Linked DNA regions of Homo sapiens: regions 1 and 3 are each linked to region 2. Evidence: fine-mapped expression QTL. A gene starts in region 2. Each other region holds a variant in brackets. All regions are shown on one strand. Distances are between the middles of the regions. Region 1 overlaps RNF166 (ring finger protein 166). Region 2 holds the start of MVD (mevalonate diphosphate decarboxylase). Region 3 holds the start of ZC3H18-DT (ZC3H18 divergent transcript).

Evidence for each region. PIP is the estimated chance that this variant, and not a neighbour inherited with it, causes the effect.
Region 1: its variant is fine-mapped to the expression of MVD in lung (TOPMed, PIP above 0.99).
Region 3: its variant is fine-mapped to the expression of MVD in whole blood (INTERVAL, PIP 0.97).

The regions. Positions count from the first base shown.
Region 1 is chr16:88,690,971-88,699,143 of GRCh38, reverse strand. It overlaps RNF166 (ring finger protein 166), which reads left to right. Exons shown (of 6, transcript NM_178841.4): 4 at 59-173; 5 at 535-642; 6 at 1,511-2,643. The coding sequence ends at 1,576. Among named protein-coding and RNA genes, the nearest start is that of SNAI3, 8.6 kb to the right of the region's middle. RefSeq lists a silencer at 7,206-7,255. The variant G/A (reference allele first, on the strand shown) is at 3,951.
Region 2 is chr16:88,659,450-88,667,622 of GRCh38, reverse strand. It overlaps MVD (mevalonate diphosphate decarboxylase), which reads left to right and starts at 4,532. Exons shown (of 10, transcript NM_002461.3): 1 at 4,532-4,612. The coding sequence starts at 4,543. SNAI3-AS1 (SNAI3 antisense RNA 1) reads right to left here and starts at 4,250. Exons shown (of 4, transcript NR_024399.1): 1 at 4,223-4,250. RefSeq lists silencers at 3,868-4,027, 4,368-4,787 and an enhancer at 4,238-4,287.
Region 3 is chr16:88,555,554-88,563,726 of GRCh38, reverse strand. It overlaps ZC3H18-DT (ZC3H18 divergent transcript), which reads left to right and starts at 1,744. Exons shown (of 3, transcript NR_146877.1): 1 at 1,744-2,223; 2 at 2,356-2,476; 3 at 3,002-3,624. The variant C/A (reference allele first, on the strand shown) is at 4,364.

The sequences.
Region 1 (8,173 bases), 32 kb before region 2:
GGGAGGCAGAGCCCCTAGACACCTAGCCGTGCCACTCACTCTACCCCCGCCCCGCCAGCAACATCCCCAACAGGTCCACCTTCGCCTGCCCGTACTGTGGTGCCCGCAACCTGGACCAGCAGGAGCTGGTGAAGCACTGTGTGGAAAGCCACCGCAGCGACCCCAACCGCGTGGTGAGCAGTGCCTGCCCCAAGCGACGCCTGCGCCAGGGGAGGCCTGTGGGGGACAGTACAAGGCCCAGGAGCCTGCTCGCGGCGAGTCCGGGGGTGCCCAGGCCACAAAGGCCTCCTGGGACCCAGGGTGGGAACTTGGCTGCCCGAGCAGCACCTGGCGGAAACCGGGGAGTGTCCATGAGTCCTTCAGGGTGACGCGCACTGAATAACTCGCTTGTCACCGGGACACGCGCCTCCAGGTCTGGGGTGCCTTCCCAGGCTGAGGCAGCACTGACGGGGCTCAGTGGAGGGCCCCCAGTCCTACTGCGGCTACCCCGCCTCTCCGCGGTCCGGCTCGGCTTGACCCCAGTGCCTGTTCCAGGTGTGCCCCATCTGCTCGGCAATGCCCTGGGGGGACCCCAGCTACAAGAGCGCCAACTTCCTGCAGCACCTGCTTCACCGACACAAGTTCTCCTACGACACCTTTGTGGTAGGCATCCCGCCAGCACCGTCCTCCCCCACGCCCTCCTCATCCACCCTCCTCCTGCTCGGGCCCCTCGCCAGCCTCAGGGTCCGCAGGGTTCAGAGGAAGCCAGAAACAGAAGCCTCGTTTCAGGTGGCCACATTCCCCCAGGTTCTGTGGGGGCTGCCTGCAGGTGGGGAGTGATGGCAGCTGAGTTTGAGTGGCCACTAGAGGGTGCCCAGGCCTCTCGGGGACATGGACCGCACAGGGCAGGTCCCTGCCTGCCCACCCCACAGAACCCCTCGAGGGTGAGCCAGGCTTCCTTCTGGAAGCTTTCTAGAGAGCGCGGGAAGGACTTTCATCAACATCGAACACTCCAGCCCTGTCTCCTTTTCCCACCCGCCGCGGGTCAGGCACACACCTGGCCCCCGGGCCTGCAGACCCTCGCACAAACTCCTCACTCCTGGTGCGGCCCCTCCCTGCGCCGCCCTGTTCATTCCTGGCCCTGGCTAACAGTCCTGGCGATGGCTGTCACTCCCTCTGCCAGTCGTCCGGGACCCACGCTCCGCCTGCCTCAGGATGGAAATTGTTAGAGGTCAGGGAGCCCTGGCCGGCCTGCTCACCTCGGAAACCCCGGGCTTAGAGTCCGACCTGAACCAGCAGCCATCCATTCCGAGTGCCCCCGTACCCAGCGGGTGATGGACACACCTTCACCTTCTCACCCCCCAGAGGACCGTGCAGGCCCCGAGCCTGTGGGGACAGTGGAGCTGGGTCCTTCCTGTGTCCTGCTGGAGGGAGGCAGGAAGGGTGGACACGCCTGTGTGGGTGATGGGCAGAGGGGACCTCTCCTTCCTGTCTCCCTCGAGCCCGGTGCATCTCTCCTTCCTGTCTCCAGGACTACAGTATTGACGAGGAGGCCGCCTTCCAGGCTGCTCTGGCCCTGTCTCTCTCTGAGAACTGAAGGGAAGCGCAGCCACCCGCCTGCGTCTGGGGTCAGGGATGTCCCCGCTCCTGTGTCGCACCTGGCACCTGCTCGGGAGCGCACCTCACCGGACTGAGCTCACAGGAGGAGCCTGCACCCGCGCAGAAGGGGAGCCGGGGCCGAGCCTCCGGGCCTGAATACGGGCCAGCCGCCGAGGCCGCCAGAGCAGGGCCGCCTGGTCCCACCGGCGTCGCTGGGTTCTTCGGTGCTTCTGGCCGAGCAGGCGGCCTACTTGGGCAGGGCTGGACGCTGGGACCTGGAGCTGCCGCCGTCTCTTCAAAGCCATGATACCCCCTCGTGGGAAGAAGGGACCGACGCGCGAGTCGCGCTCCGCAGTCGAGCCGGGAGGAACCCAGGCTGCTGCCCTGCCCAGCCCGACCCTGCCCCGGCCCCACTTCCACCTTGCGCATTTGGTACTGGCTTTTGTGATACTTAGGAACCCTGGCATCTTTTCTATATTATCCAGTGTGATAATCTTTTCACGTTTTATAGAGCAAAGACAGAGCAGTTACTCTTCATATTGCAATATCTGTGTTTGACTAGGAATAATAGTATTTTTATGGAACATTTACAAAATTATATTTTTTAAGAAAACAATCAAAACAAGCATTGGGGGATTGGGGCAAGGATGGAAGGAGCAGTGGGGCAGCTGCCAGAGCTCAGGCGAGCCATGGGGTCTGCTGTGGGGTCTGCCCTGGCCACCCACTGTGTGTCTGGGTCCTTGAGGTTTGTACGTTTCTCTTTGATGACCAGGAAGAAATCCCAGCACCCCAGCCACAGGCTGTGGCTGCTCCCAGCAGAGGCGGGGCCGGCAGAGAAGGGGCCTCCTCCACCCAGAGTCCTGGCCTTGGCCCGCTGTCACCTTCAAAGCTGACTGTGCCCCGCTGCGGGAGGGGACGGCACCCCAGTGGTGGCAGAGCTTGGGGGCCTGGGCAGGGGCCCGCTTGGCGGGCCGGGCAACACGTCAACATTCTTTTCTGTTCTTGGCATTAATTATTGCTGTCTTTTTTTTAAAAAAAAAAGTTTAAATAAAATGTCTCAGAGCATCTCTAGCAGCCTCGACTGGCTTTTGTGCTCCACGGTGTGGAATCGCCAGCTGCTGTCTGTGTTGGAGGTCGGCTGTGTCCTCCCCAGGCAGCTCACGCTGGGGGTACAGCCTGGGCCTGAGCCTCACTCAGCCACGGAGGGTCCCACAGAGCCACCTACACATTGGCACTGGGCCCTCCTGCCTCAGAGAGGACCACCCTGTTCCCACACCCACAGGGCTGCTGGGGTTCGGACTCCTAGGCTGCTTGCTTTTTCTTAGAGGTGGGGTGTCACTCTGCTGCCCAGGCTGGAGTGCAGTGGTGCAATCAGCTCACCACAGCCTCGATCTCCTGGGCTCAAGTGGTCCACTCGCCTTGACCTCCCGTGTCACTGGGACTACAGGTGTGCGCCACCTCAGCACCTCCTGGATTGGTTTCTGAGCATACTGAGTGTTACACTAACTGCCTGTAGTTCTCTGAGGGGCCACCACCAGGGCCATGGGATGTCCTGTTCTCCAGTGTCCAAGGGCCTCAGGCCAACAAGAATCACCTGTTCGCCAGCCAACCCCAGGGCAGCTGGTCATTATAGCTCAGTCACTGCCTCCTGCCTCCTCCCTCCCGCACTCAGTTAAGGAGTGTTTCCAGCCTCTGTTCTGGATTCCTTACTCGCAGGGGAGGTGGCTGTCCTGACCCTGAAGGCCACAGCTTGGGCCGGACACACAGGAGCCTCTGCCAGTTGTCACTTGAAGGGAGACACCCCCAAGGGAGCAGGGCTGATTTCCAGTTGCCCTCGCCAAGGGCCACTGGAGTCCCCACCTCCCCTTCCCACTACTCTTTGACCCCTGATGACATGGTCCTGTGTCTGGGAGGCCCTCACCAGGCAGCACCAAACTCCAGGGAACATCAGAGACACCTGCCAGCCTGCCCTTCCCTGTGGCCTTCCAGAAGGAGGCTCAAGACACAGTGTCCCCCGGAGCCACGTGGGCCTCTGACTGGTGCCCAGTGAGGCCGACAGTTCGCCACCTGGCCACTGGCCAAGCCTGTCTCACCCCTTGGGCAGCCTACCCGCCACCCACCTCCCAGCAGGAGCAGCGACGGGGGCAGCTCTCCACGTCCAAGCCGCCTCCACATCTGACCCGAGGGTGACACGGAGCCGTCACAAGGGCATGACCCTGGGTGCCCAGGAAGGCTGAAGACAGCTCTGGGCCCTGTCTGGGCAGGCCGTGGTCTCAACAGCAGCCCTCGGGGAGGTGATGCCTAAGTCTCTACGCCTCACCTGAGGAGGGCAAAGCACCTTCCAGTCACTGAGCGGCACCTCACTGCCCTGG[G/A]GAAGGGAGAGGAGCCGGCATGTTGTGGGAGGCATGGACTGGCTGGGGCTGGGAACTGCCTCCCCTTGCTCTGCTCTGCCCCAGGCCCCCAGTTCCGTGGCAGGTGCCTCAGGGGACGAATCCCGACTTAGGCTGGTCTGAGGCCCCCTGCTCTGTGTCACCCTCAGCTCTGAGGCCCCCTCTTGGCACCGCACTGTGACCGCTGTGCTGGGGACTCAGCAAGGCCAGGGCAGGCACTGGGCCCGGGGCGGGAAGGAGAAAGACCCCCCGGGGGCCCACTGACGCTCATGCTACGGATAGGAACGGTTTTAACATACTGCGGCCTCTGAAAGGGGCAGAAGCCTGTCCCTGTGTGCTTGTCCCGCTGGCCGCAGGCGACGCGACTGCCCTCCCTCCCTGACTGAACCGCAGCCACAAGCCTCCTACAAGCCAGCAGTGCCCAGACTGAGGGGACAGAGAGCGGAGCCCAGACAAGGAGCCGTCCCCATCACATTTGGCCTGCCCCGCTCCCAAACCCTGGGCCACCTCCGAACTCTCAGCCCTGCCGAGCACCTGCTCCCAAGCCCCGTGCCACCTGCGAATGCCGAGGAAGCAAAACCCTGTCCCCTCCTGGTTGAACCCAGGCCTCCCGCTGCTGCCGTGCCCAGGAGGGCTGTCAGAGGAAGCCCAGGACCCCCTCCTCAGGACTCTCTGTGTCCCTGCACACAATTCTGGAGGGAGCAGGCCTGTTCCCACCAGGTCCCCTCATGGAGGCCACAGGAGAGCTGAGAGCCACAGGCCAGCGTCTGGGTGAAGGTGCGGCCTCAGCTTTCCTCACGGGCCCGGCCGCCTCTCGGGTGACCTGGTGTCTGGGAGAGTCTGCCCAGGGGAGGACTCCAGAACGAACCCCAGCAAAGTGGGGAACTCAGGTCCGTCAGAGCTCAGCAGATCCTGCCATGGTGGGACGAGACCTCAGGCACGGAGCAAGACCCCTGCTCCATTTTTCTTGTTAACAAAGCCCTAGATAGAGCCAAATGTCTGCACCCCCGATACCCGTGGGGGCTGTCCCAGTGAAAGTGGGGAGGCCGGGACCCCTCCTACGGCCACACGAGGGAAGTGGGCCGAAGCCCCTCACGTCGGGGTGTGAGGGCGTGCACAGCGCCGGAGCCAGAGGGCCGCCCGCTCTGACCACCGGGGCCGCGGCAGCTCGGATGTGGACCCACCGCGCTCAGGCAGAGTCCTGGAAGCCTGGGTCTCCCTCCCACCCTGGAGTACACCAGGGCCTGACAGCGAGGCACAAAGCCAGATGTGGCTCGCCCTGGAGGAGCTGGGGCTCCTGCCCTGCGCGGTCCAGGCCCGTCGCAGACTTGGGGCAGCATGCCCTTGTTTTCACGTTATGCAGCTGCATGGGAAGCATGAACCCTGCTCCCCAGAAAGCGCGTCCAGGTCTCAGGGACCAGGGAACTTCTCCATTAGAAAGGGGTCAGGTGGGAATGGAGAGCCCCTGGCCCCAGGCCGGGCCCCCAAGAAACTGCTGATAATTCTTATACCTGGATCTCAGGAGCCACGACCAGCATTTTGGGTACTCCAAGGCGGCGGCAGCAGGGTGTGGTTCGCGAGACTCAGCCCAGGCCTTTCCAGAACTGCAGGTGTGCGCGGTGGCCGGGGGTGGGGAGGGGGTGGGGGCTCCCTCCAATAAGGGGCCTCCCAGCTGCAACTCCTCTACCCCAGGGCCCAGCACACCTGCCGCAGCAGCCTGACCCTCCCAGGATCCTCTGGGTGCGTCTGGGTGGTGCCTGAGGATTCCTCTAATTTGGGGCCACCTGGGTTTAGGCTCCTGAGGCCCTAGGGAAGGAAGCAGAAGCCACTTTTCCTGTTTCATGGATGAAAACAGATATTCAGAAAACCTGCCCCAAATCTCCTGCTAACAAGAGGCAAACCCGGCTGACATTCCACCCTGTGGTCCAGCCGGGGCACCTACTTGGCAGCCCACCTGGAAAACCCCAGAGGCCTCCATGGGGGACCCCTAACTCTGCCCAGGATGTGATGCAGGGAGGAGGAAGGTGGGAAGGGAGGGTGCCCTCAGCTACAGTCAGCCTCCTCCGATCCGAAACACCTGGGAGGACCCGGCCCCATCGAGGGATGGCCTGAAAAAGCCATCTCCGGTGTTGCTGCCTCCGCCGCCCTTCCTTCTATAACCACATCCCCAGGGTTCGCCACTCTCTAAACTCACTCTAGGAAAAAGAGGCCTAAATGCACTCAGCAAGGCATCACAATGTCAAAGGCACTTTGGTATTTTGACAAAAATAGCCTAAGGAATGCATCTCTAATTATCAGTGGGCTCTCGGGCACAAGTAGAGATACTTTTGAGAAGGAGTCTCCCAGGTTCAAGCAATTCTCCTGCCTCAGCCGCTCGAGTAGCTGGGATTACAGGCACGCGCCATCACACCTGGCTAATTTTTGTATCTTTAGTAGGGGCAGGGTTCCACTACGTTGGCCAGGCTGGTCTTGAACTCCTGACCTCAAGCAATCCGCCCAGCTTGGCCTCCCAAAGTGCTGGGATTACAGGCGTGAGCCACTGTGGCTGGCTGGAGATACATTTTTGCAGGGCAAGGGGAGACTCCACATGGCACCCACTCAGAGCCAGGGCCTCGGCAGGTAGAAGCCTGGCTGGAAGCCCACCCGGACCCTCTGACGTGCAGTCCTGGTCTTGGCCGCGGTTTGGGCTCTTCCAGTGGTGGATGGCATGCTGAACCCGGGGCCAGTGCAACCCCTGCAGAGTCTGCCGTGTGAGCTTCCCAGAGTCTCTGGAGAGGAGCGGCTGTGGCGCCAGCCCCAGGAAACGGGAGTGGCACCCACGTGGTGCTTTTCTCGGAACCCTCAGTGCACCTGCTGTGGGTTTGTGGGGACTGGGGTGTGTTCTGCATGGACAGCAGTGGCCTGTTTCCACGAGTCCCTCGAATCAGGGGCAAGCCAGGGCCTGTGGCCTCATCCCGGTCTGGACGCTGGGTCTACTGGGCCGCTGTATCAAGGGGCCACACCCTGGGGTGCCGAACACAACAGGAGTCTAAGTGTCGCCAGCTCAGGAGGAAGTCTAGTACCCAGGTGTGGGCGGGCTGTGCCATGGGGCAGGGGTGGGGGCCGGGGGCGGCCGCAGCGGCCTGGTGCTTCTTGGCTGGCTCCTGTGGTCAACACACAACTCCTCTGCACCCGCACGTCACCCTCCCCCTGCGCTCTGAATCCAAGCTTCCTCTTTTCATCAGAGCACCAGTCCTTGGATTAAGGCCCACCTAATGGCCTGACCTTGACTTGATGGGACCTGTGAAGACTCGATTTTCAATAAGGCCCCATGCCCAGAGGTTGGGGGGACCCCAGCATCTTTTAGGGGGACACAGTTCAATCCACGGTGCTGTCCGTCAGCACGCTGTCAATGCTGTCCCTGGCATTTCTGCAGGCACTGGGGCTCCAAGGACCCTGCTGATGGGGTGACCCAGGGCGCAGGCCACAGAGAAAGCACCTTTACGAAGGGCCTGTGTAACCTGCTGCTGGCCTGCATCCGGAAGGGATGCCAAGTCCCTCTCCCCCAGGGGTCCCCTCTCCTATGTCTCCCACCCCAGGTCCCCCTGTCCCAGGCCCGCCCCTGTTCGCAGGAGCCCTGGACAGTGCTCATCCGGGTCCCAGGCATGATGCGGCCCCAGCCCCTCGTCCGGCAGGCATTGCTCCCTTTGTGGCTGGACAAAAGAACACTCAGCGGGCCTGAGTTCTTCCTTCCCTCAGCTGCAGGGCGTGGCCCCACAGCCTGCCGCGAGTAAGGTGTCAGCTCCCTCACACGGCAGGTGGGAATCTCAAAGGACCCTGGCAGAGAGCGGATGGTGTTGCTGGAACCGAGCTCAGGTATCCAACTCGGCAGGACGATGCCGGGGACCCCACAGATCCCTCTCCTGGTGCCCGGGACTTACCCGCTGATGCCCAGCCTCCATGTCACCTCAGAGCAGCTACTGCGACTTCCCACACGCATACGCCCATGGACACACGCACGAACACGCCTGTGGCCTGCAGACTCACACGCACGCTGCCTCGCTGCTTGATGGCTCAAGTCTCACCTCATCTGCCGCAGGCCCAAGGGCTCCCCTCAGCACCGGTCACTCTCCCTTGCCTGTGCTGAGGCATTGTGCAGTTTCATGTGTCTTACGGTTGGTGTGGGTAGGGACTGTTCTAACGGGCAGCACAGCCAAGCCTGCAGC
Region 2 (8,173 bases):
CTGGGCTTCCCCTCCTTGCCCCAACACCAGTCAGGGCCCACCCACGGGCTCCAGCTGTCTGGCTTCCCATTCATCTCCCAGACCCTCTCCCCTCATGAATCAGTGCCACACACAGCCTACCCATACCATACTCAGCAAAGCACCCATGCCTGTGGCTCAGGTGCGGTGGTGTGATCAGAGCTCACTGAAGCTTTGAACTCCTGGGCTCAAGCGATCATCCTGCTTTAGCCTCTCTAGTAGCTGGGAGTACAGGTGTGCACCACTACGGCCAGCTAATTTTGAAAAAATTTTTTTGTAGGCTGGATGCGGTGGCTCATGTCTGTAATCCCAGCACTTTGGGAGGCCTAGGCGGGTGGATCACGAGGTCAGGAGATCGAGACCATGACCATCCTGGCTAACATGGTGAAACCCCGTCTCTACTAAAAATACAAAAAAATTAGCTGGGTGTGGTGGTACACACCTGGAGTCCCAACTACTTGGGAGGCTGAGGCAGGAGAATCACTTGAGCCTGGGAGGCGGAGGTTGCAGTGAGCCTGGGAGGCGGACGTTGCAGTGAGCCTGGGAGGCGGAGGTTGCAGTGAGCCGAGATTGCACCACTGCACTCCAGCCTGGGCAATGGAACAAGACTGTGTCTTAAAAAAAAAAAAAAAAAAAATTTTTTTTTTGTGGATATGGTGGAGTCTCGCTATGTTGCCCAGACTGGTCTTGAACTCCAGGCCTCAAGCAGTCCTCCCAAATCCCAAAGTGCTGCTGGGCTTACAGGCATGGACCACCATGCTTGGCCTATTTTCGACACACATACAGGCTGAGGTTCAGGAGAGCTGGGCTACAGGCGTCAGGGTGGGGATCGATGTGTGACATCTTTCAGGGAGGTAGTTTATCCTAGTTCTCCACTCAATAAGGGAGTCTGCCCACAAGCACACTGTCGGCACCCATTGCTACATGGCTCAACTGTGAGTATAACTTAGATAATTGTAATAATGAAAATAAGGAATGCTGATGGAGGGATAGGATAAGAAGGTATGTGACTGGGAGATGGAAGAGAATTCCTTATTTCTATTGAGTCATAATCAATAGAGGTTATCTAAAACTTAAAAAAATAGGGCCAGGCACAGTGGCTCACGCCTGCAATCGCAGCACTTTGGGAGGCTGAGGCGGGCGGATCACAAGGTCAGGAGATCGAGACCATCCTGGCTAACACAGTGAAACCCCGTCTCTACTAAAAATAACAAAAAAAAGTAGCCGGTCGTGGTGGTGGGCGCCTGTAGTCCCAGCTACTTGGGAGGCTGAGGCAGGAGAATGGCGTGAACGTGGGAGGCGGAGGTTGCAGTGAGCCGAGATCACGCCACTGCACTCCAGCCTGGGTGACAGACCGAGACTCTGTCTCAAAAAAAAAAAAAAAAATAATAATAATAAAAACGCCAGGCATGGTGGCTCACGCCTGTAATCCCAGTGCTTTGGGAGGCCGAGGCAGGCGTATCACTTGAGGCAAGGAGTCTGAGACCAGCCTGGCCAAACATGGCGAAACCCCGTCTCTACTAAAAATACAAAAATTTGCCGGGCCTGCTGGTGCACGCTTGTAATCCCAGCTACTTGGGAGGCTGAGGCATGAGAATCACTTGAAACCAGGAGGCAGAAGTTGCAGTGAGCTATGATTGCCCCCCTGCACTCCAGCCTGGGTGACACAGCGAGACTCTGTCTAAAAAAAAAAAAAAGAGCAGCCTGGGCAACACAGTAAGACCTCCATCTCTACAAAATAAAAAATAAAAATTAGTCAGGAGTGGTGGCACTTATCACAGCTACTTGGGAGGCTGAAGTGGGAGGATCACCTGAGCCCAGGAGGTTGAGGCTGCTGTGAGCTGATGGTGCCATCGCACTCCAGCCTGGACAACAGAGTGAGACCCTGTCTCTAAACAAAAATAAATTGTTTTTTTTTCTACTGGACTTAAACAATCTGCCCTCCTTGGCCTCCCAAAGCACCAAGCCTGTGTCTTCTTTTTCATCACAGCCGTGGCAGAAGGAAGGAGGTGACTGGAAGCCCCACTCTCTCTGAGTAGCTGAGGGAATACACCCTGACTATAGGCCGAGACAGTCCACATCAGCTCTTCAATAGGATTTAGTGGCTTTGCATAAAATGGAAAAGCAGCTGTGATTGCAAGAGAAATTAAAAATAACCACCATCTGAAATGCAAATTGAAAACAGTGAGACAACACATGTCACTCTGGCAGGTGACCCACTGTGCTGGTGAAGGCATGCAGGCACTCTCAGACTTCCGCAGAGAGACCTGAGTAATCAATTGACTTCCACAAAGGGCGACTTGCCAACAGCTATCAAAAGTACTCAGGCACATCCCACTTGGCCCAGCAATTCCACTTCCAGGAATTTCTCCTGCAGAAATACATGTGCACAAACAACGTAGGAAAGCACTGTTTATAGTAACAACCCAACTAGGACAGACCAGGTATATTTAGACAACAAACAAGGAAGCTTTTTACTAAATTGGGATGATCTCTAAGAAGAAGGTACGTAGAAAAAGCAAGGTGGGAGAACACGCTATGTGCTTGTACTATGCACGTCAATGAAAAAATACACAAAGAATTGACAGGCCAGGTGGAGTGGCTCACACCTAATCCCAGTACTTTGGAAGACTGAGATGGGAGGGTTCCCTGAGGCCAGGACTTCAAATCAGCCTGGGCAACATAGCAAGACCCCCCCACATCTCTACAAAAAAATTAAGAAAAAAATTAGCCGGGCATGGTGGTGTGTACCTGTAGTCCCAACTACTGAGGAAACTGAGGTGGGAAGATCCCTTGAGCCAGGAGGTCGAGGCTGCATGGAGCTTTGATCGTACCACTGCCCTCCAGCCTGAGCAACAGAGTGAGAAAAAAAACAGACTTTTTTTCTATTTCTGGAAAAAAATAAAGAATTTATAAGTATGATGGTTCTGGTAATAGAAGTAGGTGGCTAGGCAGAGTGGACACTTCACACTGCATACTCCCCTATTTTCCGAAATCTGAGTTTTTTTTTTTTTTTTTTTTTTTTTTGAGATGGAGTCTTGCTCTGTCACCCTGGCTGGAGTACAGCAGCACCATCTCGGCTCACTGCAACTTCCGCCTCCTGAGTTCAAGCAATTGTCCTGCCTCAGCCTCCCCAGTAGCTGGGATTACAGGCGTGCACCACACGCCCACCTAATTATTGTATTTTTAGTAGAGACAGGGTTTCACCATGTTGGCCAGGCTGGTCTCAAACTCCTGACCTCGTGATCCGCCCACCTCGGCCTCCCAAAGTGCTGGGATTACAGGTGTGAGCCACCATGCCCAGCCAATCTGAGCTATTTAAAAACTAAAGGTAAAATTTTAAAAGGGGAAGGGGAAAATGGGAAGTCATTGTTTTAAGGGGACAGAGTTTCTGTTTGGGGTGAGAAAACTCTAGAAATAGTGGGGGCGTGGCACATGATTGGAATGAATGGCAGGGAACGGCACGCTTAAATGTTCCTGTACGTTTCACAGGAGAAGTCAATGCACACACAAGCGCCGCAACCCAGTCCAAGGCTTTGCTCCTACAGGGCCTTACAGGGGGTATTTGAGACGCCCACCTTAATGCAGGTTGGACCCAGCTCCGGGCTGCGGGGCTTCCCCGCCCCGGGGTCTTTCGTGTGAGCCCCGTGGCGGGGGATCCTGGCCCAGGACATGGCGCGGAGAAGGCTGTGGGCGGCGGGACAGGGTGCCTTCGGCTGCCGGGTTAAGAGTGGATCCCGGGATACATCCTCCAGCGCCTGCCCTCGGGCCTGTGTGCACCCCCATACCCAGCGGGGCCGTCCAAGAGCTTCAAGGAGGGCACAGCGCGACCCGCCCTCCCCTCAGCCCCGCACACCGTCCCACGGCCCCGCACAGCCTCCCTCCCACACAGCGCCCCACGGCACCCGCACAGCGCCCCACGGCCCCTTCATGGTCCCCGCACAGCGCCTCACAACCCGCACACAGCGCCTCACGGACCCTTTACGGCCCCCGCAGAGTCTCCCACACGGCGCCCCACACAGAGCCTCACGGACCCCGCACAGCGCCTCAAGGTCTCCGCACAGCCCCCAGCACAGCGCCTCACACAGCCCTTCGCACAGCCCCCCGCACAGCTCCTCACGGGCCCCACACAGCTGCCGCACAGCCCCGCACAAGCCCGCACAGCACCAGCAGACAGGTAGCCCCCACAGGCAACAGCGCCCACCTCGCCGCGCCCAGACCCCGGATCGCCGACGCGGACGCCAGGCGCCTGGGCACACGGCGCCTGCGCAGACAACACCACGCCCCAGGCCTGGCGAGCGCACCCTGCGGGTGGGGCGGACCTACGTCAGCAACCCATCGTCCGATCCCGTCCATTGGCTGAGAGGTAATGCGTGCGCCCGACTCGCCGCTGATTGGTCGGCGCGCGAGCAGCCGGGCTCGCACGGGCCAATCCTGTGGTAGCGCGTGAGGAGGCAGAGGCCTCTGGGGTGGGATCGCGGGCCGTAAGTGGCTGTGGAGCTGGGGTCACTGCGCGGTGGGACCATGGCCTCGGAGAAGCCGCTGGCGGCAGTCACTTGTACAGCGCCGGTCAACATCGCGGTCATCAAGTACTGTGAGTGCCGCGGGCCGGCCTGGGACGGGGATGGCCGGGAGCGAGGCCGGGTACGCGGGGGTCGCGCGCTGATTCGGCGGCGCGCTCCGTCCTGCCCTCCCAGGGCCTCGACAGACGGGGAAACTGAGGCTCAGGGAGGGGCGCGGCGGTGGTCGGGCGGGGCCGCGCGCTCCTTCGCGTGACAAGCTCGGCGCCACCCGTTCCCCCGCGACGGCTGCCGCCCCTGCAGGGTCGCCCGGCGCCTGCCCATTAGCGATTACCGAACTATCGAAATCATCAATCATCGATTCCCATGAATCGTAAGAATCCGCCGTGGTGGTGCGCGTTTGTGGCTCCAGCTACTCGGGAGGCTGAGGCGGGAGGATGGCCAGAGCCCGGGAGGTCGAGGCTGCAGTGAGCGGAAATCGCGCCACTGCTCCCCCAGCCCGAGACCCTGTGTCCCTCCCTCGCCCCGTTTCTCCCAGCGGTAACCTCCAAGGAGCGGTAATGGGGGGCCCGCAGGCCCACATCCGTGCCGGGGAGGCCGGTCCGCACCTGTGCGTTCACAGCCCCGCCCCTCCCCTCGCGCCGGGGTTACCTGGCCGCCACTGACCACTCATTTCTGTAACGTCATTTCAAAATGTTCTGAAACTGGAATCGCAGTTATGTGGCCCACCCAGTATCTTTTGAGTTTGGCTTATTTCATTCAGCATAGAATGTGGACGTGCCCCGGGATTGTATCAGTGCTTTGCCCCTCTGTTGCTGAGCCAGTCCGTGGAATCCATGGACCACCCTCTCTCTAGCCAAGGCCTCACCCCGCAAAGAGCATCTAACGTTTTCTTTCTTTCTTTCTTTTCTTTCCAGAAGCCGCCACCACGACTGGCTAATTTTTTTGTGTTTCCCTTACCAATAAAGCTGCCATAAAATGTTGTATACAGGTTTTTGTGTGAACATACATTTCCATTCTTCTGGGATAAATGCCCAGGAGTGCGGTTGCTGGGTCAGATGGTAGATATATATATATGCCTCTCTGTCTCTCTCTCTCTTTCTATGTATATATGTATGTTTGTGTGTGTGTATATATATATACACCTGTATAGATATATGTGTGTGTATATGTATACACCTATATAGATGTATGTGTGTGTATATATACATATATATATTATATATATACTTTTTTTTTTTAAAGAAACTGTCTAATTGTTTTTCAGAGTGGCTGGGCCATTTTGCATCCCTACGGTGATGCAGATTTTCCGCATCCTCACCAGCATTTGGTGGAGTTGCTGTTTTTCATTTTAGCCGCGTCCTGGTAGGGATGTGCTGGCAGGGTGCTGTGGTCCTCATTCGCGTTTCCCTGTTGGCCAGTGACGTGGAGCATCTTTCTTTGTGCTTATTTGCCATCTGTGGGTTTTCTTGGTGAAATCTCTCTTCATATTCTGTGTCCACGCTCGAACTGGATGGTTTGCTTTTTTACTATAAGTTTGGAGAGTTCATTACACATTCTAGGCTGGGCACGCTGGCTCAAGCCTGTAATCCCAGCACTTGGGGAGGCTGAGGTGGGCGGATCACCTGAGGTCAGGAGTTTGAGACCAGCTTGGCCAACATGGTGAAACCCCCGTCTCTACTGAAAAAAAATAAAATATGTATTCTAGATATTAGTCTCCTGTTGGACATGTGGTTTGCAGGTATTGTCTCCCAAACTAGCTAATCTTTTTGTCCTCTTAACAAAGAGCCAGTTTTTCATTTTAAAGAAGTTCAGTGTATCAATGTTGATGTCAAGTCTAAGACCTCTTTGCTTAGCCCTATGTCCTGAAGATTGTCTGCTTTCCTCCAAGTTGTACAGGATTGCCTTTTATATTTAAGTCTGTGATCCAAGGTTGTCCAGTTAGCCCAGAAAGGCTATCCTTCCTCTATTGAATTGCTTTTGCACTTTTGTAAAAAAAAAAATCAGCTGGGCATGTTTGTGTGGGTCTATTTCTGGATTTTCTCTTCTGCTATTTTTTTTTTTTTTTTTTTTTTTTTTGAGACAGAGTCTTGCTCTGTCACCCAGGCTGGAGTGCAGTGGCACAATCTTGGCTCACTGTAACCTCCGCCTCCTGGGTTCAAGCAATTCTCCTGCCTTAGTCTTCTGAGTATTTGGGACTACATGCACGTGCCACCACACTTGGCTAATTTTTGTATTTTTAGTAGAGATGGGGTTTCACCGTGTTAGCCAGGCTGGTCTGAAGCTCCTGACCTCGTGATCTGCCCACCTCAGCCTCCCAAAGTGCTGGGATTACAGGTGTGAGCCACCGCGTCTGGCCTTTTATTTTTATTTTTTATATTTATTTATTTTATATTTATATTTTTATATTTATTTGTATTACTTTTATATTTATTTTTTTGAGACAGACTGTCACTGCGACACCCAGGCTGGAGTGCAATGGCGTGATCTCGGCTCACTGCAACCTCCGCTTCCCGGGTTCAACCGATTCTCCTGCCTCAGCCTCTCGAGTAGCTGGGACTACAGGTGTGCGCCACCACACCTGGCTAATTTTTGTACTTTTAGTGGAGACGGGGTTTTGCCATATTGGCCAGGCTGGTCTTAAACTCCTGACCTCAAGTGATCTGCCTGCTTCGGCCTCCCAAAGTGCTGGGATCGTAGGTGTGAGCCACTGAGGCTCACCAACAGTGATATTTATGGAAACGTGTCCATTTTCTTGTAACGTTCAGAGACTCTGGTCTTCTTTAAACCTTACGTTTGAGCTGGTTTTTGATAGCGCGCTGGTGGAGGAGGGGGTGCTGGCTCAAGATAAGGAGGCAGAAGTCCAGGTTCCCCTCCCCACCAACGCTGTCCCATCCCCACCAGGCCCTCAGGAATTCCTGAGTGTCTGCTTGGCCTCTGACAAGAGCCGGCAGGTCAGGGGAGTCCAGTCTCCCGTGTGCTCTCCAATGACTCCTGGGGAGGTGAAAGTCCCCACTCCTTCAGGGAGGGAAAGGGGGCGGGGCACTGTTCCAGCCTGGAGTGTGGGAGGGATCTGTTTCTTTTTTTCTTTTCTTTTTTTTTTTTTTTGAGAAAGGGTCTCCCTCTGTTGCCAGGCTGGAGTAAGGCTGGAGTGCAGTGGTGCCATCTCGGCTCAGTGCAACCTCCGCCTCCCAGGTTCAAGCGATTTTCCCGCCTCAGCCTCCTGAGTAGCTGGGATAACAGGCGTGCGTCACTACAGCCTGGCTAATTTTTGTATTTTTAGTAGAGATGGGGTTTCACCATATTGGTCAGGTTGGTCTCAAACTCCCGACCTCAGGTGATCTGCCCACCTCGACCTCCCAAAGTGCTGGGATTACAGGCGTGAGCCACCGCGCCCGGCCAGGAGTCTGTTTCTGTGTTGCTAGGCTGCCCTTCCTGGTCCTGCTAGGGAGGGCTGGCTTTGGTTGGCAGTTCCAGCTTCTGCAGGGCTAGGTCTAGGGCAAGCAGAAAAGAAAGCCCCGGGCTCCCCCTGCACTGTCCCACAGCCGCCCTCTGTCACCCGTGAGAGTCTCACCTGTGATGTCCAGGGTCTCAGTTGTCCCCAGTGGGAGGAAGCGGGAGAAGTCCCCTGGCCC
Region 3 (8,173 bases), 100 kb after region 2:
CACCACCATGCCCAGCTATTGTTTTCGTTTTTTGTAGAGATGGGTTCCCAGTGTGTTACCCAAGCTGGTCTCAAACTCCTGCGCTCAAATGATTTTCCCACCTTGGCCTCCTAAAGTGCTGGGATTATGGGCATCAGCACCATGTCTGGTGATCTGGTCCCTTCTTCTTTTTTTATTTTTATTTTATTCTTTTTTGAGACAAGGTCTGACTCTGTTGCCCAAGCTGGAGTGCAGTGGCATGAACAGGGCTCACTGCAGCCTCAACCCCCTGAGCTCAAGTGATCCTCCCACCTCAGCCTCCCTCGTCCCTGGGAATACAGGCATGCACTCCCGGCTTCTGGTCCCTTCTAAGAGCATGCCTTGTGCTATGGTTTGAATGTTTCTCCTAGACTTTATGTGTTGGGAACTTAATCTCCACAATTATATGCTTTTGGAGGTAATTAGGATTGGATAAGGTCATCAGAGTGGGCCCCCATGATGGGACTAGTGGCCTCATAACAAAAGAAACGGGCCGGGCGCGGTGGCCCACGCCTGTAATCCCAGCACTTTGGGAGGCTGAGGTGGGCGGAGCACGAGGTCAGGAGTTGGAGACCAGCCTGGCCAATATGACAAAACCCCGTCTGTACTAAAAATACAAAAATTAGCCGGGCGTGGTGGCAGGTGCCTATAATCCCAGCTACTTGAGAGGCTGAGACAGGAGGCAGAGGTTGCAGTGACCCAAGATGGTGCCACTGCACTCCAGCCTGGGTGACAAAGCGAGACTCCATCTTGAAAGAAAAGAAGAGAAAGAGAGACTTGGGCTGGCGTGCTCTTGCCCAGCGCCATGCTCTTGGACCTCCAGCCTTCAGAACTGTAAGAAACAAACCTCTCTTCTCTATAAATTACCCACTCTTAAGCTATAGCAACAGGTAACAGACTAAGACACCTTGTAACTTTTCTTATTCTTTTTTTTTGCTCTGCGATTACAGGCATGAGCCATCGCGCCCAGGTTAGCCCTGTCCAGACTGGCTTTGGGGGTTACAGCCCTTGTTCCCAGGGAGTGGAACTTCTGTGCTCCCAAGGGAAAGCCTGTGATGGTCACCAGCCCCCGCCCCCCACAGGGCTTGGTCTCCAGCCCGTCGCAGCTGCCAACACCCCTGCTCAGCTCTCCATCCTCCCGGGAGCCTTTTCTGTTGGGTTTCTTGGAGTTTCTTGGGGGCATATTCAGCTTAGGGGGCGGCCACGGCCTGAAGGGGATTTGCACTCAGGGCTTTGGGCTCTTTCTCCAAGTTCCCTCAGGCCCCAGCAGGTTTGGAGCCTCAAACTCTAATCCCTGTTTCTCAGCTCGGCAAGGCTGTGCTTTCTGTTTTTGGACCTCCACGCCAATGTGGGAAGATGCCCCACAAGGAAAACCAGGCTGAACGTGGGCTCACTTTCTTGTTTATGTTCGCTCAAGGGATATAGCCCCGGGCCCCACCAGCGCTGGTTACTCCCCACAGGCCCCGTTACATGCGTGTATCACACAGCGAAGCGTGTGTGTCCAGCCTGTATCCATGTCTTCAGCGGGAGGCCGAGTGCCATACCAGCGGTTCTGTCTGAAAGCATTTTACGAAGGATAGCCCTTGCTATTTCCTCAAAGAGCCACCAGAGGGCACTCCCACTCCGCCCAGCCGCTGTTCCCGGGGGGAAGGGGGGATGGGGGGGTGAAGGGTGATAGAGGGGTGGGGGGGTGGGGGGGTGGGGGATGGGGGATGGGGGGGTGGGGGTGGTCCCAGGCCCTGGACTGCAGGTGAAACCTGCAGGAAGCCCTGTCTGTTCTGTGTGGGACCCCCACTTCCATCATGGCCCCCACCACAGACACAGTGAGTCCACTCCAGTCCCTGTCCCAGCCTCTGGAGGGATGCTGGCTCTGACCCCATCTGGCCCCCTGCCTTTCCCTCGAGATGTCCATGGGCCCCCAACTCTTTGACGAGGTCTCAGACACCCCAAGGAGGCCGGGGAAAGGATTCCCGGCGCAGCTGAGCTTGAGGCTGGGGGCTTTTCTGTTGTTTCTGCAGCCCCAGGGCCTGGCACCGTAGGACCTCTGCAGGCTGGTGGGGGTGAATGAATGATTGATTGATGAATGAATGAATGAATGAATGTCAGTTCAGCTGCCATTTCACCGCCTGGAATTTGGGACTCGGACTGGCTTCCTGGCTCCTCAGCTTGCAGACGGCCTATTGTGGGACTTCACCTGGTGATCATGTGAGTCAATACTCCCAGTAAACTCCCCTCCATGTATACATCTGTCCTATTAGTGCTGTCCCTCTAGAGAACCCTGACTCATATACTGGGGGTGACGTCAACGCTGCTGTGACTGTCATTTTCTGGTTCTAGAGAAACAGTGGACCCACTGAGACCAAGGGCAAGGGGAGGAAAGGCCCGGGGTAGGGCTGAAGACACAGGTTCCAGGCCCAGCTCTGCTGCTCACCGATGAGGCTTCTCCTCTGTTGAGCAGGTACAATCGTAGGGCCCTACTCTTGAGCTTGCCGTGTGGGTTGACGGTGGCGGTCCACATACGAACACTCAGCGTGGTGCCTGGCATGCAGACAGGGTTCTGTAAATCTCGGTCGTCGTAGACGATTCCATTTATTACCACCGAGCACTTCATGACCCCTTTAGGCAAAAGACTTCCCTCTCTGGACCCCTGCCTCCACTTCTACGTGGTGGCGGGTTCAGGACTGATGGCTCTGTAGCTCCATCCCATGCCATTTCATTCCATTTTCTTCCTTAGCTTCTCCATGTCTTGGCTTCTCTGTTGGGGTGATTTCAGCACCACATGGAGGACAGCAGCCTGGGAGCTGTCCATGGAGCTGAATTCATGGGAGGGCACCTGGTGGAGAAGGCGGGGTCGGGCTGGAGGTGGGGGTGGGAGGGAATCAGCAGGGGATGGCCAGAAATGGAGGGAGCTTGCGTCCATTGGGCACAACTGGGTCTTCCACGCCATGACAGCTCATGGAGTCAGCCTTTCCTGTCGTTCCAGGTAGCCCCAGTTGGGAGCTGAGGTGTGTTGATTGGGGCTCTGGGAACCATAGCCTGCCAGCTGTGGCTTGGCCATCCCCTCTGCCAGCGCTTTCCCGCCCATCAGCCCTTTTCTCTGGAGTCCCTCCTTCAGCCAGGTCCTGAAAAGTCATACCTTTTGGCCAAGCTGCTGAAAATACTACTCAGCCAGAACTCATGTGCTCATGCCAGCCTCATTCATGACACCCTCCAAACCAGAAACAGCCCAGGAGCCGATCAACAGCTTCATGGGAAAATGTATTGCAGTCTATCTCATCGCCGGGCCCTTCCGTGGCCGTGGAGACGGGCGAATCATGGTCTATCCCGTCGCCGGGCCCTTCCGCGGCAGTGGAGACAGGCGAATTGCAGTTATGCGCAGCAAGGAAGCCTCTCTCAATCACATTGAGCAGAAGTGGCCAGGCTCAATTCTGTGGAATTCTGTGTGGATCACAAACAGGCAACATAGAGGATGGTGTTTTGGGGTGCATGTTGAGGGAGAGACGGGGTTCTCTTCATCACAATGGTGGCTGGCCTCCAGGAAGGGAGGGACAGTGGCTGGGAGGCCAGGGGCCTCTGGGATGCTGAAAAATTCTTTTTCTTCTCCTTCTTCTTCTTTTTTTTTTTGAGATGGAGACTCACTGTGTGGCCGAACCTGGAGTGCAGTGGTGGGACCTCGGCTCACGGCAACCTCTGCCTCCCAGTTGAAGTGATTCTCATGCCTCAGCCTCCTGAGTAGCTGGAATTACATGCGCCTGCCACCATGCCAGGTTAATTTTTCGTATTTTTAGTAGAGATCGGGTTTCACCAGGTTGGCCAGGCTGATCTCGAACTTCTGACCTCAGGTGATCTGCCCACTTTGGCCTCCCAAAGTGCTGGGATTACAAGGCATGAGCCACAGCACCCAGCCCAGAATGGTTAATTTTATGTTATGTGAATTTCACTCAATAAAAAAAAGACAGGAAGGGGAAAGAAAGAAAGAAAAGGCAGGGAGCCGGGCATGGTGGCTCATGCCTGTAATCCCAGCACTTTCGGAGGCCGAGGTGGGTGGATCACGAGGTCAGGAGATTGAGACCATCCGGGCTAACATGGTGAAAACCCGTGTCTACTAAAAATACAAAAAATTAGCCAGGCGTGGTGGTGGGCGCCTGTAGTCCCAGCTACTCAGGAGGCTGAGGCAGGAGAATGGCGTGAACCCAGGAGGCGGAGCTTGCAGTGAGCCCAGATAGTGCCACTGCACTCCAGCCTGGGCGACAGAGCGAGACTCCGTCTCCAAAAAAAAAAAAAAAAAAAAAAAAAGGGCAGGGAACACCAGGGGGCCCAGGGGAGTCAAGGTGCCTGTGAGTGT[C/A]CCCAGCAGCCCACCTCTCCTCCCCTCCCCCCAGCCTGCAGGCCCCGGAAGCACAGGGCTGTGCCCTGGAGAAGTCTGGAGTGACTTTTAAAACACAGATATGGGGACCCATCCGATTCTGAGTTTCTGGCCAACAGCGCTCCGTGTGGTTCAGAAGTTGTATTGTTTCAGGACGGAAGCAAAGTCCAGCTAACAGCTGTCAAGGGCTGGCCTCTTGCTGGGGCCTTGGGCCCGACTTTCTCCTTTGCTCCTCCCAAAGGCGCTGGGAAGCAGGGTGCTGATGGTAAAAAATGAAGCTCAGAGAGTTTCAGTGCCGAACTCAACATTGCACGACCAGGCACAGGAGGGCACGGGACTCACAGCTCCGGAGCTTGAGGGGACGCGGGACTCACAGCACCGGAGCACGGGAGGGCATGGGACTCACACTCCCAGAGAACGGGAAGACAGGGGACTCACACCCCCAGAGAATGGGAGGACACGGGACTCACACCACCATAGCACAGGAGGGCATGGGACTTACAGCGCTGGTCCATGGGAGACGCGGGACTCACACCCCCAGAGAATGGGAGGATGCAGGACTCACACCCCCAGAGTACAGGGGGACATGGGACTCACACCCCTGGAGCATGGGGGGATGCGGGACTCACACCCCCAGGGAACGGGAGGATGCGGGACTCACACCACCAGGGAACGGGAGGATGCCTGACTCACACCCCCAGGGAACGGGAGGACGCAGGACTCACACCCCCAGAGCACGGGGGGAACGCGGGACTCACCCCCCCGGAGCACCGGGGGACGCGGGACTCACCCCCCCGGAGCACGGGGGGACGCGGGACTCACCCCCCCGGAGCACGGGGGGACGCGGGACTCACCCCCCCGGAGCACGGGGGGACGGGCGACTCACCCCCCGACGGGGGGATGCGCGACTCACACCCCCGGAGCATGGGGGGACGCGGGACTCACCGCACATCTTTAACTCCTAATCCCATCTGCTGGGGAGGCTGCGGCAGGATGAACGCTTGAACCCAGGAGGCAGAGGTTGCAGTGAGCTGAGATCGCGCCACTGCACTCCAGCCTGGGCGACAGAGCGAGACTCTTTTGTCATTTCCCTTTTTACTCAATGGCTACTTTGGTTTTTCTTTTCTTTTTTTTTTTTGAGATGGAGAGCTGGAGTGCAGTGGCACGATCTCTGCTCACTTGAACCTCCGCCTTTTATGTATTTTCAGTAGAGAGAGGTCTAGAAGGCTCAGCTGCAGCCGCCTGCCCCGCAGGGCATTCCTGGCCCAGAAAGGGTAAAATCAGACTCTAAACTCATTCAGCTGAGTGGCTTGTCCTGGGTCTGCTGTAACAAGTGACACCAATGGGCGGCTTAAAGCCACAGAAGCTGGCTGGGCACAGTGGCTACACCTGCAATCCCAGCACTTGGGAGGCTGAAGCGGGAGGATTGCTTGAAGCCAGGAGTTCAAGTCCTGGCTGGGCAGCATAGTGATACCCCCATCTCTAAAAAAAGATGGTGCACGCCTGTAGTTCCAGCTACTCTGGAGGCTGAGGTGGGAGGCTTGCTTCAGCCCAGGAGGTCGAGGCTACAGTGAGCCGTGATTGCACCACTGTCTCAAACGACAACAATAGTGACAACAAAAACACTCAGAAACATATCGCCTCACAGTTCCGTAGGCCAGATGTCTGATAGCAGAGTCATGAAGTGGAACTCGAGGCACGGGCAGGGCTGCAGGCTGCAGGGAAGGCTCCCCACGGCCTCTTCCAGGTTCCCAGGCCTCAGGCATCCGTGGCTCCCGTGCCTTGAGGCTGCATAGCTCCTGCTCTGCCTCTGTGGTCCCACGCCTCTCCTCTTCCATCTGTGTCCAATCTCCCTCTGCCTCCCTCTCAGGAGAACTCATGATCACGTCGGGTCTGTCCAGATGCCTTCTTTCTCTCCATCTTTAACTCAATCATGTCTGCAAAGACCTTTCTTCCATTCTTCCACATACAGTCACGTTCACAGGGTTAGGGTTAGGGACATGGATGTCTTTTTTTTTTTTGAGACGGAGTCTTGCCTGTGACCCAGGCTGGAGTGCAGTGGTGTGATCTCGGCTCACTGCAAGCTCCGCCTCCCGGGTTCACGCCATTCTCCTACCTCAGCCTCCCAAGTAGCTGGGACTACAGGCGCCTGCCACCACGCCCAGCTAATTTTTTGTATTTTTAGTGGAGACAGGGTTTCACTGTGTTAGCCAGGATGGTTTCGATCTCCTGACCTTGTGATCTGCCCGCCTCGGCCTCCCAAAGTGCTGGGATTACAGGCTTGAGCCACCACGCCCGGCCAGGGCACCCAGCCATTTTCAGTGGCCACATCACGTGTGAGTGAGGGGACCAGTTTCTGAGCGGGGACCCTGGTTTCTGAGCCCCCGTGGTGTGCTCAGTCCTTGTGAGGTTATGGTGAGGTAAGAATAGTGGCCCCCAGCGTGGAGCCTGTTTCCATTTCTCTTTTTCTCCTTCTAAGGCAGTACAGGCGGCCCAGCTGTGCCCTCCCGAGCAGGTGAGGCTGGCTGAACCCTCTGGGTTTTCCATCCTTGCCTGTAAGTAGAGCTGAAAACAGCACTTTCGCCCAGGTGCTAGGAAACGAGATGCTGTGTGTAAAGTGACTGGTGGCTGCCTGGCCTGGTGGTAAAGGTCCCGGAAATGGGTGACTGTGTGAGTCCAGGCTCACACTGCTCTAAAGAACTACTGGAGACTGGGTCATTTATGAAGAAAGAGGTTTAATTGGCTCACAGTTCCACAGGCTGTGTAGGAAGCATGGCTGGGAGTCCTCAGGAAACTCACAATCATGGTGGAAGGTGAAGGGGAAGCAGGCACGTCCTCACATGGCGGCAGGAGAGAGAGAGAGAAAGTGGGGGGCGGGGGAAGTGCCGCATAGTTTAAAACCATCAGATCTCGTGAGAACTCACTATCTGAGAATAGTGAGGGGGAAATCCACCCCCGTGATCCAGTCACCTCCCACCAGGCCCCTCCCCTAACCTTGGGAATGACAATTCGACATGAGATCTGGATGGGGACACAGAGCCAAACCACATCAGTGGCTTTAGGGAGATCTGAGTAGCAATGAAGGCATGGCCCGCTTGGGAGAAAGTGTCTGCAGGAAGCGCCTTGTGAATTCTGCGGTGCTCACCATGGGCTGGGCGGGTTTTCAGTGGGGGCAGCAGGGCCTTGGAGATGGGGCCACACTCTGGGGAACCCTTTGGGTCGGGGAGTGAGCCCCGCTCTGTCTAGACATAGGCAGTCCCAGCACAGCAGAGGGCGGTCCTTAGGTCCGGAAGGGGGCACAGTCAGGCGCGAATTCTGGGCCCTGAGCTGGGGCCATCATCTCCTCCCGAGAGAGAGCACAGGTGCCATTGCAGGTGCTGCTAGGGTGCTGCGTGCCCTCCGAGCTTGGCGACGCTCCACTGAGCTGTGTGAGTCTCCGTCCTGGGCTCCGTGGAGACCAGGATGATAATAAGATGAGGACCAGTGGCTTCCAGGAGCCCCAGTCTTAGAGGTGGAGACAAAGAGCTGTGGAGGGGCTGGGGGTGGAGAGGAGCCAGGGGGTGGGCAGAGGGGGTGGGGATGGGGCGGGAGGCATGGAAGGGGCAGGGGAGAGACGAAGGGCCACTGGAGCCACATTAAGACAGAGGGGAAGTGTTAAGACTTGGAGCTGAAAATGCTGGGAATTAAGCGGAAATTCTGCTAAAAGTTTATGGTAACACACTGGGATGGGGGCCGGGTGCAATGGCTCATGCCTGTAATCCCAGCACTTTGGGAGGCTGAGGCAGGCAGATC